Linked DNA regions of Homo sapiens: region 2 is linked to region 1. The links come from fine-mapping of genetic effects on gene expression. Tissue or cell type: whole blood. Region 1 holds a variant in brackets; the other region holds the start of a gene. All regions are shown on one strand. Distances are between the middles of the regions.

Region 1 (8,104 bases):
GTATCGATGATAAATACTAACTTACGTTTGTTTCTTTTCACCTAGTAAAAGAATGTGTGGATCATTTAAGTAGAGATGAGGATGAAGAGAAACTGGTAGCCTCACTATGGGGAGCAGAGAGATGTTTACGAGTTTTAGAAAGTGTAAGTATGGATGACTATTTGGCAAAAATTATTCAGTCTTAATTGTGATTGTGTGTGTAAGAGAGAGACTGCCAAATATTTTATATACCCCTGGAGGTTCACTTCTGTTAATCCAGATAGAAATAGCAGTACATTTTTTGAGCAACCAGTTGTTAATAAACAAGCTAAATGAGTAGTTTTATATTTTAAGAGTACATGTATTATTGCTGCAAATGAAATGTTAGGCTTGTTTGTTTACATATGCCAATCTTTTTTAAAGATTTTATTATTTTTATTATTATTTTTTGAGCCAGAGTCTCACTCTGTCACCCAGGCTACAGTGCAGTGACATGATCTTAGCTCACTGCAACCTCTGCTTCCCGGGTTCAAGCAATTTCATGCCTCAGCCTCTTGAGTAGCTGGGATTATAGGCATGTGCCATCATGCCCTTCTGATTTTTGTATTTTTAGTAGAGTCGGGGTTTTGCCATGTTGGCCAGGCTGGTCTCAAACTCCTAGTTTCAAGTGGCCTGCCGGCTTCAGCCTCCCAAAGTATTGGGATTACAGGCGTTACACTTTGCTGGGCCCCTCCAATCTTTATTGTTTTTTCCTTAATGTGAATTTCTACTTGACTACATTGTTTGTAGATAACAATAGTGAAATGCAATCAGGTTTTATTTTTAAATTGTTATTAGCATTTTGTTTATTTGACTTTTATTTGAGTCAGATTGTTTATAGGCATGGCCTGTCATAATATTTGGCTTTGGAGAATGATACTGTTGAACTGCAGCGAGTATATTTTGTTCTTTGACTCTTACGAAAGACTTAACCCAGTTCCGTATAGATTAGAATTTATACTGCCAGCTAATTTCAGGATGCATAGGTTTGTTCACCAGGTTATTTTAAAAGTAGTATAGTATAAATTAAAAGCTCCTGGCATAGATTAAATTGTAGCGTTCCATGTGTCTTCTAGAGTGCTTTGGGCACAGTAGATAACAGATACTTCTTTGTAAAAATGTGTTCTAAATGAATCTACTTATGAACTTTACGTTATTTGTAAGTTGAGGACTGCTCTATTCTGACATTCAGTGTGTTTGGCAATTCGTTACAGTGAATATGTAGTGTAGAATATGTTAATTATGAATGAATATAACAGTGATGTCTTAATTTTTTCATAAAGCATTAGCTTTCTTATTTTACACCTGGAACCTGTAGGTTGTGAAATTATTCCCTTTGGTAACAAGGGCTGTTTCTTCCTCATCTTTGTATCTTTTACGCACCAGGCAGAATGTGGTGTTACATGAATGAATGAAAGTTTTGGATTGCCACAATTATTTCATATTCTTCCTTTTTAGGTAACTGTGCATAATCCCGAAAATCAAAGCTACTTGATAGCATATAAAGATTCCCAACTTATTGTTTCATCAGCTAAGTAAGTTTTTTGTTTATTAGTTAACAACTAACATTGTTACTTATTTTAAACATTTGGATTGACCATAAATGAAAGAAATTTGGATTAGCTTCCTCCATGAAATGCTCTGTTGAGTTCTGTGAATTGGTTCACATTGTGTAACAAAAGTTTTAAGAGTACAGATTTTGGACACAAAATGACAGTGTGGATTCCAGCTTGATAATTTCAGCTGTATAACTTTTGTAATGTACAAATCAAGCTCTTTACAAGGGGGATAATAATAGTGGCTAACCCACCTAGGATTTTTATTACAGTAAAATGAGTTAATTTGTATGTTTGTAAGAAATATATACATAGTAGATATTTAAAAATATGTGTATATTAAAAATACATATAAAAAATTTAAATTTAAATGATTTTTAAAGTATCTTTTGTATCATTTGTGATACATATTAATGAGTTAAATTAGTTAATGTGCAAAGCCTAGAACAGTACTTGGCGTATAGTAAATACTAAGCATTTTTCCTCATTCTTGTTTTAAATGGACTTTTCTCTGTTCTTCTGCACTTTATTTAGACCTGTTTTTCTATATCTGTATGTAGCTTCTTCCATTCCACATTTATTTCTTCCCACATTTCATCACAATTAGGCTAATGCTGTCACCTCCTTGCAGGTAAAATTCCCAAGTATGTCTCCAGTCCTGGTTCTGTCTTATTACAGCAACCTCTTCCTGATATCTCTGTCCTAGTTCTTGATATCTGCCCTAGTTCTCTGGCCTTTAGCCTATCCAGAACAATACCACATGGAGTTAACTTTCTCCAAATCGCTGCTTTGAAAAAATAATTTTAATTTCTCAAATCTCTGATTCCTTATTGTCTTTGGATATATGTACAACTTTCTTATTGAAGTCAGCCTTATCAAAGGCCCATTGCAGTCTTACTCTAGTTTATCTGTTTTTTAACCTCTTATTTTGGAGGAATTCAAATATAAATAGTGTAATAAACTGTAATGTACACATTATCAATCATGGCCAGTCTGGTTTCCATCTGTAACCTCATCCATTCCCTCTCCTGTATTATTTGAAACAGATCCAGATATTATTTCGTCCATAAATACTTAAGTACATAATGCCTAGAAGAAAAGGACTCTTTTAAAAAATATAACCCCAGTGCCATTTTCATGCCACACATTATTAGTTGCTTAATATTTTATGTTTAGTCAATATTCTAATTTTCAGTAGTCTCAAATTTCTAGTCTCAGTAGATTTTCTTAATCTGTAGGTTTTTAAAATCTCCTTTTTTTGTCTTGGATTTGTACGTTTTGTATCTTGCATTTGTATATTTTATTTTTCTTTATTTTATTTTATTTTTTTTTCTGAGCCCAGGCTGGAGTACAGTGGCATGATCTCGGCTCACTGCAACCTCTGCCTTCTGGATTCACATGATTCTCCTGCCTCAGCCTTCCGAATAGCTGGGACAACAGGTGTGCGCCACCACACTTGGCTAATTTTTGTATTTTTAGCAGAGACGGGGTTTCACCATGTTGACCAGGCTGGTCTCGAACTCCTGACCTCAGGTGATCCACCCGCCTTGGCCTCCCAAAGTGTTGGGATTACAGATGTGAGCCACCGTGCCTGGCCTATTTTATATATATTTAGCACTCTCTTTTTTTTTTTTTTTTTTAATAGATACAGGGTCTTGCTATGTTGTCCCAGCTGGTCTCAAACTCGTGGGCTTAAGTGATTCTCCTGCCTTGACCTCCCAAAATGTTGGGATTACAGGCATTAGCCACTGTGCATTGCCTGTATTTAGTGCTCTTACCGCATGCATTCTGGTTGTTTGCTACCATGTTTTTACCCTTCCTTACCAAAGATTATTGAAGTTAAATGTTTCTGATTTCATTTTCTTTTTTAAATTAAGAAAAATTGTGTATGTTGTTTCTGATTTAAAAATATCTCTTTTGTATACTTCATAACCTCTGACAACTACCTTGTAAGAGGAAGTATTTGATATGACAGGTGCTCTTTTGTTGTGATTAGGAAATTCAGGCCAAATGTCTTGGAAGTGGCAGTAGAGGTCAGAATTGAGTGTTTGTAAAAGAGCACTTATCTCTAGGTTTTTAAGCTTTTCAGCAGAAACCATGATCAATTCGGAGATAGCATACAGAAAGATTAAATAACATATGCTGAACCTCCTTTTGTCTTCAAAGCCCCAGTTTAGCCCAGCCTGAAAACAGTTGAGTTACCAGTGACAGTATGGTAATCCTGACCAGCATTCAATACCAGAAGAACAAATTATTTTAGGTTAGACATGAGGAACACCTTCCTGACCAAAGGGTTGTAAAATATTAAGAACTTTTACAGAA[C/T]TTCCTCAGTATGTTTTAAAGGGCAACTAGGCGTAGATTAGATACGGTTTCTTTAAGAATTTTGTGTGATATATAATGCATGAAGAATCAACTGACAGAGTGAGCTTACTTGATTTGTATTAAACTTAAAAATCGTGGACTTGGTGATTTAAATAGTGTCTTTAGAAATACTAGACCCATTAGGGATTATATTTCCTTGTTATTTTGGGTAGTATCTTGAGAATCCTTTTTTTTTTTTTTTGGTATCATAAAGTTTTTAATGACACACACATTTTGTCCTTTACCTTACAAATATTTCTTTGGGTTTTATTCTGATCATCATGCAATATACAGAATAGTTTCTTGCCATTACCTTATTAGGGTAGAACCACCTTTGCAACTTTGGACACCATTTAGTAGACGTGAAATGGAATATAGAAAGATAGAATGCTTGAACAAAACCTCTCAGTGCTAGCTGCCTTAACTAAGGTCCTTCTCTCAGCTTAGTACCCCTGTGACAGCTTGCAAGACACTCTGACTTTGTTTTATTGTGCTTATGTAGTCAGATTATGAGGCTGATCATTGAGTGTCCATCAGACTCTACATTATTGATTCCTCTCTCAAGTTGCCCCAATATCCTTTGTGGCCAGAGGAAGAGAAAAACATTCAACTAGTAAATCCAATTTCTCTTGCGAAAAAGACTCATAGTTCTGATAAAGAGTCATTTCAATACCTGTTTCACCATTTAGAAAACATGTTTCTGTTTGTATAGCACCTCTGGGAACCTAATGCAGTAATATCGCCTTCTTTTCCATTTGTCCCTGATCTAGATGCTATATTTTTTATGCAACCCACCTGCTGTTAAGTATTTTACAATTATAGATTTACGCTCTATCTTTTATTCTGTCCCATCTCACCCTGCTAGCAAATTTTTATTTGTTTTCTTTTTTTCTTTTTTTTTCTTTCTTTCTTTTTTTTTTTTTAGTATTTATTGATCATTCTTGGGTGTTTCTCGGAGAGGGGGATTTGGCAGGGTCATAGGACGATAGTGGAGGGAAGGTCAGCAGATAAACATGTGAACAAGGGTCTCTGGTTTTCCTAGGCAGAGGACCCTGCGGCCTTCCTTGTGTTTGTGTCCCTGGGTACTTGAGATTAAGGAGTGGTGATGACTCTTAACGAGCATGCTGCCTTCAAGCATCTGTTTAACAAAGCACATCTTGCACTGCCCTTAATCCATTTAACCCTGAGTGGACACAGCACATGTTTCAGAGAGCACGGGGTTGGGGGTAAGTTTGCAGATTAACAGCATCCCAAGGCAGAAGAATTTTTCTTAGTACAGAACAAAATGGAGTCTCCTATGTCTACTTCTTTCTACACAGACACAATAACAATCTGATTTTCTTTTCCCCACATTTCCCCCTTTTCTGTTCGACAAAACTGCCATCGTCATCATGGCCCGTTCTCAGTGAGCTGTTGGGTACACCTCCCAGACGGGGTGGCGGCCGGGCAGAGGGGCTCCTCACTTCCCAGACGGGGTGGCCGGGCAGAGGCACCCCCCCACCTCCTGGACGGGGCGGCTGCCGGGCGGGGGCTGCCCCCCACCTCCCTCCCGGACGGGGCGGCTGGCCGGGCGGGGGCTGCCCCCCACCTCCCGGACGGGGTGGCTGCCGGGCGGAGACGCTCCTCACTTCCCAGACCGGGCGGCTGCCGGGCGGAGGGGCTCCTCACTTCTCAGACGGGGTGGCCGGGCAGAGACGCTCCTCACCTCCCAGACGGGGTGGCGGTCGGGCAGAGACACTCCTCAGTTCCCAGACGGGGTCGCGGCCGGGCAGAGGTGCTCCCCACATCTCAGACGATGGGCGGCCGGGCAGAGACGCTCGTCACTTCCCAGACGGGATGGCGGCTGGGAAGAGGCACTCCTCACTTCCCAGGCTGGGCGGCCGGGCAGAGGGCCTCCTCACATCCCAGACGATGGGCGGCCAGGCAGAGACGCTCCTCACTTCCCAGACAGGGTGGCGGCTGGGCAGAGGCTGCAGTCTCCGCACTTTGGGAGGCCAAGGCAGGCGGCTGGGAGGTGGAGGTTGTAGCGAGCCAAGATCACGCCACTGCACTCCAGCAAAAACCAGTCAGGTGTGGCGGCGCCCGCCTGCAGTCCCAGGCACTAGGCAGGCTGAGGCAGGAGAATCAGGCAGGGAGGTTGCAGTGAGCCGAGATGGCGGCAGTACAGTCCAGCCTCGGCTTGGCATCAGAGGGAGACCGTGGAGAGAGAGGGAGAGGGAGATTGTGGAGGGAGAGGGAGAGGGAGAGCGAGAATCCTTAGATGTAGCTCATCCCCTTGGAAAATTGTCGAGGAGACATGTCAATTTGAATGAACTTAAATTAAAAAATAATGATTTATACTGTCAACGTTGGTAGTGAAGGTAATAAAAATAATGATTTGCTCTAATGCGTATGAAATATTTAATACTTGTCTTTACATTAACATTTGTTATGTAGTAATAACATTTACTACCTCAGAAGTGTCCAACATTAGCTGTTAACCATTTGCCCTGTTTGAGAAAGGGTTGTGGTCTGTCTCTTATATTGGAGAGATCAATAACATGCGAGACAATTTGGAAATAAAGAGATTACTAGTGGTAAATGTAGATAGTACAGATATAAACTTCTGCCATAAGTTTTTAATTTTAACATTCCTTGAATAAGTTTTTTAAGGTATCAGATTTTTCCAAAATAAAGTGAAATTTCATCCGATAGCCTTTAGGTTCAAGTAAATAGAAATTTGCTGTGTACCTATTATTATTTACTATAATAGTCTATATTTTATTTCCTTTTAAGAGCATTACAGCATTGTGAAGAACTGATTCAGCAGTACAACCGTGCTGAGGACAGCATATGCTTAGCTGACAGTAAGCCTCTGCCTCACCAGAATGTAACTAACCATGTAGGCAAAGCAGTGGAGGACTGCATGAGGGCCATCATCGGGGTGTTGCTTAATTTAACTAATGATAATGGTAAGATTTTTTTCCATTTTTTTCTCATTGAAAGATGTATATTGCATGTGAAAACAAGTTATTTTTGTTTCTCCTTTTCCTGGGGTAGTGATTTTTTTATTTGTCATAATGTACTTGACTTACTCATGTGTAGGTTTAAATTGCTTTTAAGAGTTGATATTTTTAGAAGCCTAGTAGCTTGACCCAGAAGTATCAATAGTATGTTTCAATAGAGGAATGACTATACAATTCTAAGTTAATATCCATGTTAATAAATCTCCATTATTAGTGTTCTAAGGAAGAATCAGTAACCATTTTCCTGTATCCATTTCTTATTTCAGAGTGGGGCAGCACCAAAACAGGAGAGCAGGACGGTCTCATAGGCACAGCGCTGAACTGTGTGCTTCAGGTTCCAAAGTACCTACCTCAGGAGCAGAGATTTGATATTCGAGTGCTGGTAAGTTGAAATGACTTTTTCAGAAATGAGTATCATATCTAATAAGGTGTGCAAAATGTTAACCTTAGTTTGGGTTTAAGAACCAACCCTTTAATATATTGTGGGTTTTTTTTCATGAATTTCCTTATGAACTTACTGTGTGTGTTTCTTTTTTTTTTTTTTTTTTTTTTTTTTTTTTTTTTTTTTTTTTTTTTTTTTTTTTGGGAGATGGAGTCTACAGTGGCAACATCTTGGCTCACTGCAACCTCCGCCTCCCTGGTTCAAGCAGTTCTCCTGCCTCAGCCTTCCAGGTGCTGGGACTGTAGGCATGTGCCACCACGCCTGGCTAATTTTTGTATTTTTAGTAGAGACGGGGTTTTGCCATGTTGCCAAGGCTGGTTTCAAACTCCTGGCCTCAAGTGATCTGCCCGCCTCAGCCTCCCAAAGTGGTGGGATTACAGGTATGAGCTATTGCGTCTGGCTGAACGTACTTCTTATTGTGCAAAAGAAAGCCATGAAAAGACCCTATGTAAAAATAAAAAGTACGAAAGCTAAAATTGGCAATTAAAAATAAAAGGAATGATTCTTTGGGAAAATCGGTGGTTTTTTTGTTTTGTTTTTTTTGTTCTTTTTTTGTTTGTTTTTGAGATGGAGTCTCACTCACTCTCTTGCCCAGGCTGGAGTGCAGTGGCACAGTCTCGGCTCACTGCAACCTCCATCTCCTGGGTTCAAGCTATTCTCCTGCCTCAGCCTCCCAATTAGGTGGGATTACAGGCATCTGACAACACACCTGGCTTATTTTT
Region 2 (8,102 bases), 66 kb before region 1:
GGTGGGAGGATGGCTTGAACCCTGGAGGTGGAGGTTGCAGTGATTGGAGATCGTGCCACTACATTCCAGCCTGGGCGACAGAGCAAGACTCTGTCACCAAAAAAAAAAAAAAAAAAAAAAAAAAAAAATGTGGCCAGGCATGGTAGCTCACACCTGTAATCCCAGCACTTTGGGAGGCTGAGCCAGGCGGATCACAAGGTCAAGAGATCGAAACCATCCTGGCCAACATGCAAAACACCATCTCTACTAAAATACAAAAAATGAGCTGGGTGTGGTGGTGTGCGCCTGTAGTCCCAGCTACTGGGGAGGCTGAGGCAGGGGAATCGCTTGAACCAGGGAGGCAGAGATTGCAGTGAGCCGAGATCGCGCCACTGCACTCCAGCCTGGTGACAGAGCGAGACTCCGTCTAAAAAAAAAAAAAAAAAAATATATATATATATATATATAATATATGTATATAATTTTACATGAAAGAAGGAAATAAATGGGTGCTTTTATTCAACAAATATTTATTGAGCACCTACTCTTGTGCCAGGCAGTCTTCTAGGTGCTAGGGTTGCAGCAGAAAACAAGACAGGCAGAGATCCCTGCCTTCAGAGGGAGCACAACATTTAAGATAAACATGCAAAATGCCTGATATGTTAGATGGGAAGATAAATGCCCTTAAAGAAAGTAAAGCAGGGACAGTGACATTTAGGAGTGAGGATGTTGCAACAATTTAAGATAGGTTGGTCAGGGGAGATTCATTGAAAAGTCCCATCTGAGTGAAAACCTAGAGGAGAGAATTGAAGCAGGCTGGTATCTGGGGGAGTTGTAGGCAGAGGGAATAGGAAATACAAAGGCCCTAAGGTGGGGAAACAGCAAGGAGTCAGGTGTGGGCAGAGCAGAAAGTTGGGGCTGCATGAGCAAAGGGCAGGGCCTGGCCCACATCTCGTAGAGCTTTGTAATATAACCACAACATGCAAGTGTACAATTTAACATTTTATTCCACATCCGATGGCAAAGAAAAATTGACTGCTACCAATATGGTAGTTTCTGACCTGTAGTTCCCTAAATAGAATTCTATAAGTTGTAATACACTTTACTACACATTATCAGAAAAAGACTAAAAGTTCTATTTAGTAACTCCAATTCTGACAGTTCTCATGTCTGGGCTAGAACAAGGGCATGGCAATGGCAGAACAGATGTCTTCTATTTTCTTTGCAGGATTTTCTTTTTTCAGAGGAAAGTACAGGTATGGGCCCACTCAAGTGGAGCTCCAGGTTAGGGGGTTCTGTCCTCACCCAGGCAGCACACAGGAGGGCAGAGGCCCCTCCTAAGGGTACTACAAACTTGGCTCTGATCCATGATTTCAGTTTCTGACAAACACAACATTCAGTGGGGGAAAGAAAATCAGGTATCTGAGAGCTTGCACACAGGCATTCTAGCAAAACCAAAAGCACCTACTGGCTACTTGATGTTAGTGTGAAGATTCTCATGAAATGGAGACAACCATTCTAGGGGTTGAGGTGGCCAGGGGGATGGAGCCTGAGCTGAGAGAACTAAGAAAACAAAAACAATACAACAAAAAGCTGTTCAGCCATGTGTTACCCACACTGGAGTTCTGTTTGCTCATTCTGGTGTGGAACCCAGGGCCCTGGTAAGGGAATGAGGGGACTTCAGGGCATTTGCTTGCCTCAGTGGAAGCAGGGAGGTAAGGGGTTAAGGTGGTGGTACAGCCTGCAGGGCCAGGAGTCTGAACTCCCTCCAGGAGGGGCCCGAGGGGTGTCTTTAGTGTGAGCCACACAAGGGTACAGAGCCCAGAAGAGCTCTGCTTAATATTCATATACTAAGCTTCCACAGACTAAATACACACACACACACACACACACACACACACTCACACACACTTTACTTCTCAAATCATGTACCACTTTCTACCAGATTCAAGAACACCAAGAAGTACTAAAGGGTATCCAACCGTCAAGAAAAAGTTTGACTCCCTCATTAGTTGTAACATACAAGTCTTCCCATTTCCTTACTTGTAAGATAGAGTAATGGACTGGGAAGCAGACAAGGCCCCTGAACAGCCTAGCATCTTACCTGATGCATAGGAGGTTCTTAATCATCTCCCTTCCTCTCCCTCATCCTAACGAAAAATACTAGATTGCTGTCAAATGCTATGGGTATACTTTAAATCAGTGCTTGTCAAACTTTAATGTGCAGCCCAATCAGCTGGGGGAATCCTGTTAAAATGCAGGTTCTGATTCAGTGGAGCTGGGGTGAGGGATAGGAATTATGCGTTCCTTACAGGCTTCCAGGTGATGCTACACTGCTGATTGGGGATCATTCTTTGAGTGGCAAGAATTTGACACTACTAAGTTTCATTACTTAACACAACCATCACATAAAAGCCCTCAAAAGGCACCAGTCTAAACAATAAGCCCTTCCACTTCAGCCTCATGCAGGCACTGACCCTGCCAAGTGTCCAGCACTAGAGAGGCCAGGCATAATAGACATATCCTTTGGTCTTGGGAGGATCACGACACCCTCCTACAGGAAGATCTTGCAATTGTTTCCTCACCTCTTCTGGTTTTTTGATCTTACCTTTTGCCTCTGATGATAATTACCCTTTAATTACCACCCACCACCTTGTCATCTAAATAATTATAGTAAGTGCAGCCTGCACCTCTGCCAGAAGATCTTTAAACAAAATGATAAAAACAAGTTCCTAAACTGCCAATTAAAAAAAGAGACAAAACTGACCCAAATAAAACAGTCATGTGCATCCCACCCACAGTGGAAGACATGGACTTGTTTTTCATATAAACTACAGAAGAAGTTGATTTATTTTGAAACAAGAAAAAGTACTGATTCAGTATTTAGGAAATTGTAAATGTCAGAATATAAATTCTGCAGTCAGGTAGGCAAAACAATCCAACCACACTAAAATCCACCTTAAATTCCTCTTGGGAAGAGCTGCAGGGTCTCTGAACTATTTTTCCTTTATTTGGAGTTTCCCCGATTATACCGGAGGGAGCTGGATAACTTCTGGGTGCATTAAAAGCAAATTATCCATTTGTGGGAGAAGGGCGGGCTTCTCACTGAAAGCAATTAGTAGTTTTCTAATTTCCCAGGTGGGTCTCCATTAACCGCCTAACAAACACCAAGGCTGTCGGAGTCCGACGAATCATGCACCTCTCTTAGGGGGAACTGGTTGCGCTACTCTTTAGAACGCTGTTTTCCCATGGTAGCCTTAAAAAAAACTTACCAATTTTCTGAATTAGGTAACACATTGAATGGGAAAAACCTAAGATAGCACAAAAAGGCGTACAGCGAAAAATTAAGACTCCTTCCTCCCGTCATCCGCCACCTCACTGTCCTCCCTAGAGGCAATCGCTGGTTCACTTCTTTAAACTTTTTATTATGGAAAATTTCAGATACACAAGTAAAGAGACTGTATGATGAGCACATATGCTCGCATCACGCAGCTTCAACGATGAAAAACGTTCTGCCAGCTTGTTTTATTCCTCTCCCCCAGTTTTCATAGGCGTATTTTACAGTCCTGACACCAGATCACTCTGTCAACACATCAGTAGGTCTTAAAAAAAAAAAAACAAAAAACCATAACCACATTACCGTTACCACACCCAACAAAGTTAATGATAATTGCTCAATACCATCCAATATTCTCGGGGCCACTTTCAATCGGTGAGGGGCAGACGGACTTAGAGGAAGGACTGCAGGGCTGGAGGGGCGCGAAAAAGCGAGGGGCGACGCTGCTCGTGGCCTCGGGTGTCCGGCGCCTCGCGGTCCCCGCCATCGTCACCTACGCCGGGCCAGGACCGACCAGGCCAGGTCGAGGGCGGCTCTTGACCACGCGCCCCCTGCCTCCCAGCTCCCGGGCGGCGGCCTCCGCAGGCCCGGCACAGCTGCACAGCCCGCGGTCCCCAGGCACCGGCGGGTCCCTGGAGGGGAAGCGATTGATACAGCTGCCTGCACTGCGCCACCCGCCCGGCTGCCCATCTCCGTGGCACCTGCGTCTCCCGGCTGGGCCGGGAGCTAGAAGTGGCTGCCGAGACCGGGAGGGCCCGGCCAGTCGCCCGCTCCCGCTCCCGCGCCTGGTCCTCGGCCCGCGACCTCGCGGACCTGGACTACAACTCCCGTCGGGCTCCGCGGCCGGGCCAATGGCGGGCGCCGGAGCATGCGGGGCGCAGCGCCTGCGCGGCGGTTTGAGTAAGCGGCTGCGCGATTGGCTGCGGGGTCGGGCGGCCGCGCGGGGACTGTGGGAAGCGGAGTGACGGAGCGAGCGGCTGTTGGAGGAAGGAGGTGGGGGCCGGGAGCGCAAATGGCGTTGAGATGGTTCAGGGCCCTGTTCAAACTCCAGCACTGACCATTCACCGGCGGAAGCGGCGGCGCAGGAGGCGGCGGCGGCCCAGCGGGGGCACACAGCAGGCTCTGTTACCAGCTCCAGCAGTGGCGGCCAGCGAGAGCTAGGCCTGGGCCCGGCCGGCGGCGCTCGAGGCGGGGAGGGAAGTTGCGGGGCCGCCGCTCCTGCCCCCCCAACCGGGCTTCCTATTTACCGAAAGCAGAGTCCCTCGCCTCTCTCGGCTCTCACCTGCCGGCCCTGCTCTCCCGCGCGAGGGTTCCGCGCCCGCCCGCGGGCCGTAGGGAGCGGGAGAGGCGGAGGCGGCCCGTGGCCAAAGCACCCGCCAGGCTCCGAGGGTAAGTGAGGTGTCGGGCGGCCGCCTAGGCCGGGAGGGAGCCGGGAGGGTGGGGGAGGCAGAGGCTGGGAGCGGGCGGTGGAAGTCTCACTGCCTCGCCCACCGGGCCGCTGAGGAAGTTGGGCAGGGGAATGACCTGAGGAACTCTTTTTTTCCCCTTTTATTTTCCTTTTTCGGAGTTCTTTTTCGGGCGACTGCTGATTGACTTAGCTCCCCAAACCCAGTCAAGTGTGTTGATTTCAGCCCCGAGTCCTTTCCCGTGGTTTCATCCGCCTCTGGCCGCCACTGGGGCCTTGCACTGCCTTAAGGATTCGGTGGCAGAGGCTTCCGGGGCGTCGAAAGTGACCTCCCTTTCCTGGGCGGCGCGGGTTGGGAGGAGAAAAGTTGCATTGAGTGTCTAGTCCGAGGGGTCCATCGCGCCCACTGCCCGTGGCGCCCCGGCTGTCCCCAGGTGAGGATTTCTGGTTAGTCAGGTTCGTCCCGTCCGCTTTCCATCTTTAATGGAAGCCCTTAAAGCCTTTGGGGATCGGGAAGACGCTAGATTAGGGTGGGAGTGAAGTATAAAGGCTTTTTGCTTTTTTTTTTTTTTTTTTTTTTTTAAATCACAGCGCACTTCTCTCAAAATTCGACCTGATTTTGGGCTAGGGCAAAAGCCGAACGACCGAAAAGACTTAGTCGTCAATCATTCTTTCCTTTTTAGTTAGGACAGTCTTTGGAGTTTAAAGGTTGAGCAAGATTGTGTACTTGAAACACTTAAAATTTAACTTCAAGGACGTCTGCACACTTATTTTGGAATCTGTAGTGCTTTACGCTTAGATAATGCCATTGCAAAGACATTTTATTGTGGGAAACGATAAAGGCAATCAGGAGGAGATATTATATAATGAACTTCTCTGTACCCATCGCTTGGATTTAGCAGTGACTATTAAACAAATTTATTTCATCTATACACTTCTCATTCCTTAATGTTGGAAAATCGCTGACGTTATTTCATCAGTATTTCACTATGTATTTGTAAAAGACGTGGTCTTTTGGCACAAAATTATTATTATCATTATTATTATTATTTTGAGACGGAGTTTCGCCCTTGTTGCCCAGGCTGGAGTGCAGTGGCGCGATCTCAGCTCACCGCAACCTCCGCCTCCCAGGTTCAATTGATTCTCCTGCCCCAGCCTCCGGAGTAGCTGGGATTACAGGCATGCGCCACCACGCCCGGCTAATTTTCTATTTTTAGTAGAAACGTGGTTTCTCCATGTTGGTCAGGCTGGTCTCGAACTCCTGGCCTCAGGTGATCTGCCCGTCTTGGCTTCCCAGAGTGCTGGAATTACAGGCGTGACCTGCCGCCCCCAGCCAGCACAAAATTATTTTTTATCACATAAAATAATTAAGTCCTTAGTGTCAGGTATTCATCTGAAGACTTCAAACTTTCAACAGTGAATGCTTTGTGGTTATAGAACCATTTTAACAGTTTTTCTGATGTTGGCATAAAGGAACTCAAGTCTAGATTTTTGGTTTGGCCTTTGGTTAGTATTTTTAGATGATTAGCACATAAGTGAATCCAAAACATTCCATCTTTGTTGGTGTGTATGTGTACGTACACTTACAGACCTGCAGGATCTCAGCTTTACATTCTTGAAGGAACAGAGAATCGATTTTTATTTTGTTGTCCGTGGTAGTTGCCCAGTATCCTGTTTTGTTTAGGCTGTACTTAACAAGAAAGACAGTAAGACTTGTTAGTGTTAGAGCTGCAGTGGAAGATGAAATACATCTCCTTCAGGAACACTGTTTTCTCTTAACGCAGATATGTATGATGACTAAATTATTACCTTGTCAAATTAAAATTGGGTTCTCACCAAACATGGGGGGGGGTCTACTACTGAATTTATATAAAACTCAGACAGTGACTCATTATAAATGGTAAGAATTTAAGTTAATCAAGGGAAAACAAGTGTAGATCAAAACATATTCAAAAGTATAGGTCAAATATAATTTCAATTCTTGTAGCTTTCAAAGTAATGATTTTTCATTCCTTAGGCCCTTGTTCACTTTTTAAAGTTATATTCGATGTATTCATGTTTGAACTGTAGAAAGGTCAAAGTGTTAGACAAACGGTTACTGATTGATCATGTTTAAAAAGTACTATAACTTTTTAATAGGCACAGAACTAATGCAAGTAACTTGTTTTAAAAAATGTTTGACTCTTGATTTACTGCCCTAAAGATTTTTTTTTTTGTCCTGTGAAGTAGATAAATCAGGTGAATCGATTTGCCATTTATAAATTGAAAAGGAAAATAAAAGTTGTATGTTTCTATGTCTGTATTAATCCATGAAACAGTGTAATATGCTGGAGCTCACTAGCCCCAGAAAATATAACTCAGCAAATGAGCACAGCACTATCGGGACAAGGCAGATAGGATAAGGATAGTTTCTTTCCCTAGGGAGATGACCATCTAAGGAACATTTTTAAAGTCACAGCGCAAATTACATTACACCAAGAAGCAGAATCTTCAAGATTGGGTTAAAAGCTGCAGGTTGTAAAACATGAGAAAAAGCACCATTTTGGGGACCTTTTTTCTCATGTGAATTAGTGCCATGAAATTTCAAAGAACTAAATTTAATCAAGTATTGGATATTTCTGAGGCCCTGAAAAAAACTAACATTCTGTGCTTAAGATTTTATATAAGTAATTACCCTATACAGGTTATCATTATATCACTGCAACCTCCATCTCCTGAGTTCAAGCGGTTCTTCTGCTCCAGCTTCTCAAGTAGCTGGGATTACAGGTGCGTGCCACCACTCCCAGCTAATTTTTGTATTTTTAGTAGAGATGGGGTTTCACCGTGTTGGGCAGGCTGGTCTCAAACTCCTGGCCTCAAGTGAGCTGCCTGCCTCGGCCTCCCAGCCTCTATACAGATAATTTTTTAAGGTAAAAATGATGTTTATAAGAATAGTAAATTAATTCATTTGGAACTTAATATGCTTCATTTTAAGTTAGCTTTATGGATATCGTATTATAAGTTGGTTAATCATTAAGTTTTTTTACTTTGTAAGTAGCGTAGGAATATGTACTCATTGTGGAGGAAAATTGACATGGAAGCATGTAGGGTAATAAATCAGCCTTTCTTTATACCCCTTCCTCATATTTGTTTATTTAAAAGTCTGTGTGGTGAGTGTCAAAAGTCATGAGGGAAGAATCCCTAGGTTTTTATTTTTATATGCACTGTTTAACACTTGTATTTGATGATTATATGTTTTCTTAAATTTTTTTTCACAGAGAATATGAAACTGGTGTCAAAATGACATCCAGATTTGGGAAAACATACAGTAGGAAAGGTGGAAATGGCAGTTCAAAATTCGATGAAGTCTTTTCCAACAAACGGACTACCCTTAGCACAAAA

Evidence for each region. PIP is the estimated chance that this variant, and not a neighbour inherited with it, causes the effect.
Region 2: it holds the start of WAPL, and the variant in region 1 is fine-mapped to the expression of WAPL in whole blood (INTERVAL, PIP above 0.99).

What each region holds. Positions count from the first base shown.
Region 1 is chr10:86,452,438-86,460,541 of GRCh38, reverse strand. WAPL (WAPL cohesin release factor) reads left to right here. Exons shown (of 19, transcript NM_015045.5): 11 at 46-143; 12 at 1,477-1,553; 13 at 6,711-6,886; 14 at 7,207-7,322. Among named protein-coding and RNA genes, the nearest start is that of WAPL, 65 kb to the left of the region's middle. The variant C/T (reference allele first, on the strand shown) is at 3,897.
Region 2 is chr10:86,517,968-86,526,069 of GRCh38, reverse strand. It overlaps WAPL (WAPL cohesin release factor), which reads left to right and starts at 4,278. Exons shown (of 19, transcript NM_015045.5): 1 at 4,278-4,705; 2 at 7,979-8,102. The coding sequence starts at 8,001. It overlaps WAPL-DT (WAPL divergent transcript), which reads right to left and starts at 4,123. Exons shown (of 2, transcript NR_186498.1): 1 at 3,661-4,123; 2 at 969-3,561. RefSeq lists silencers at 3,665-4,224, 4,365-4,784.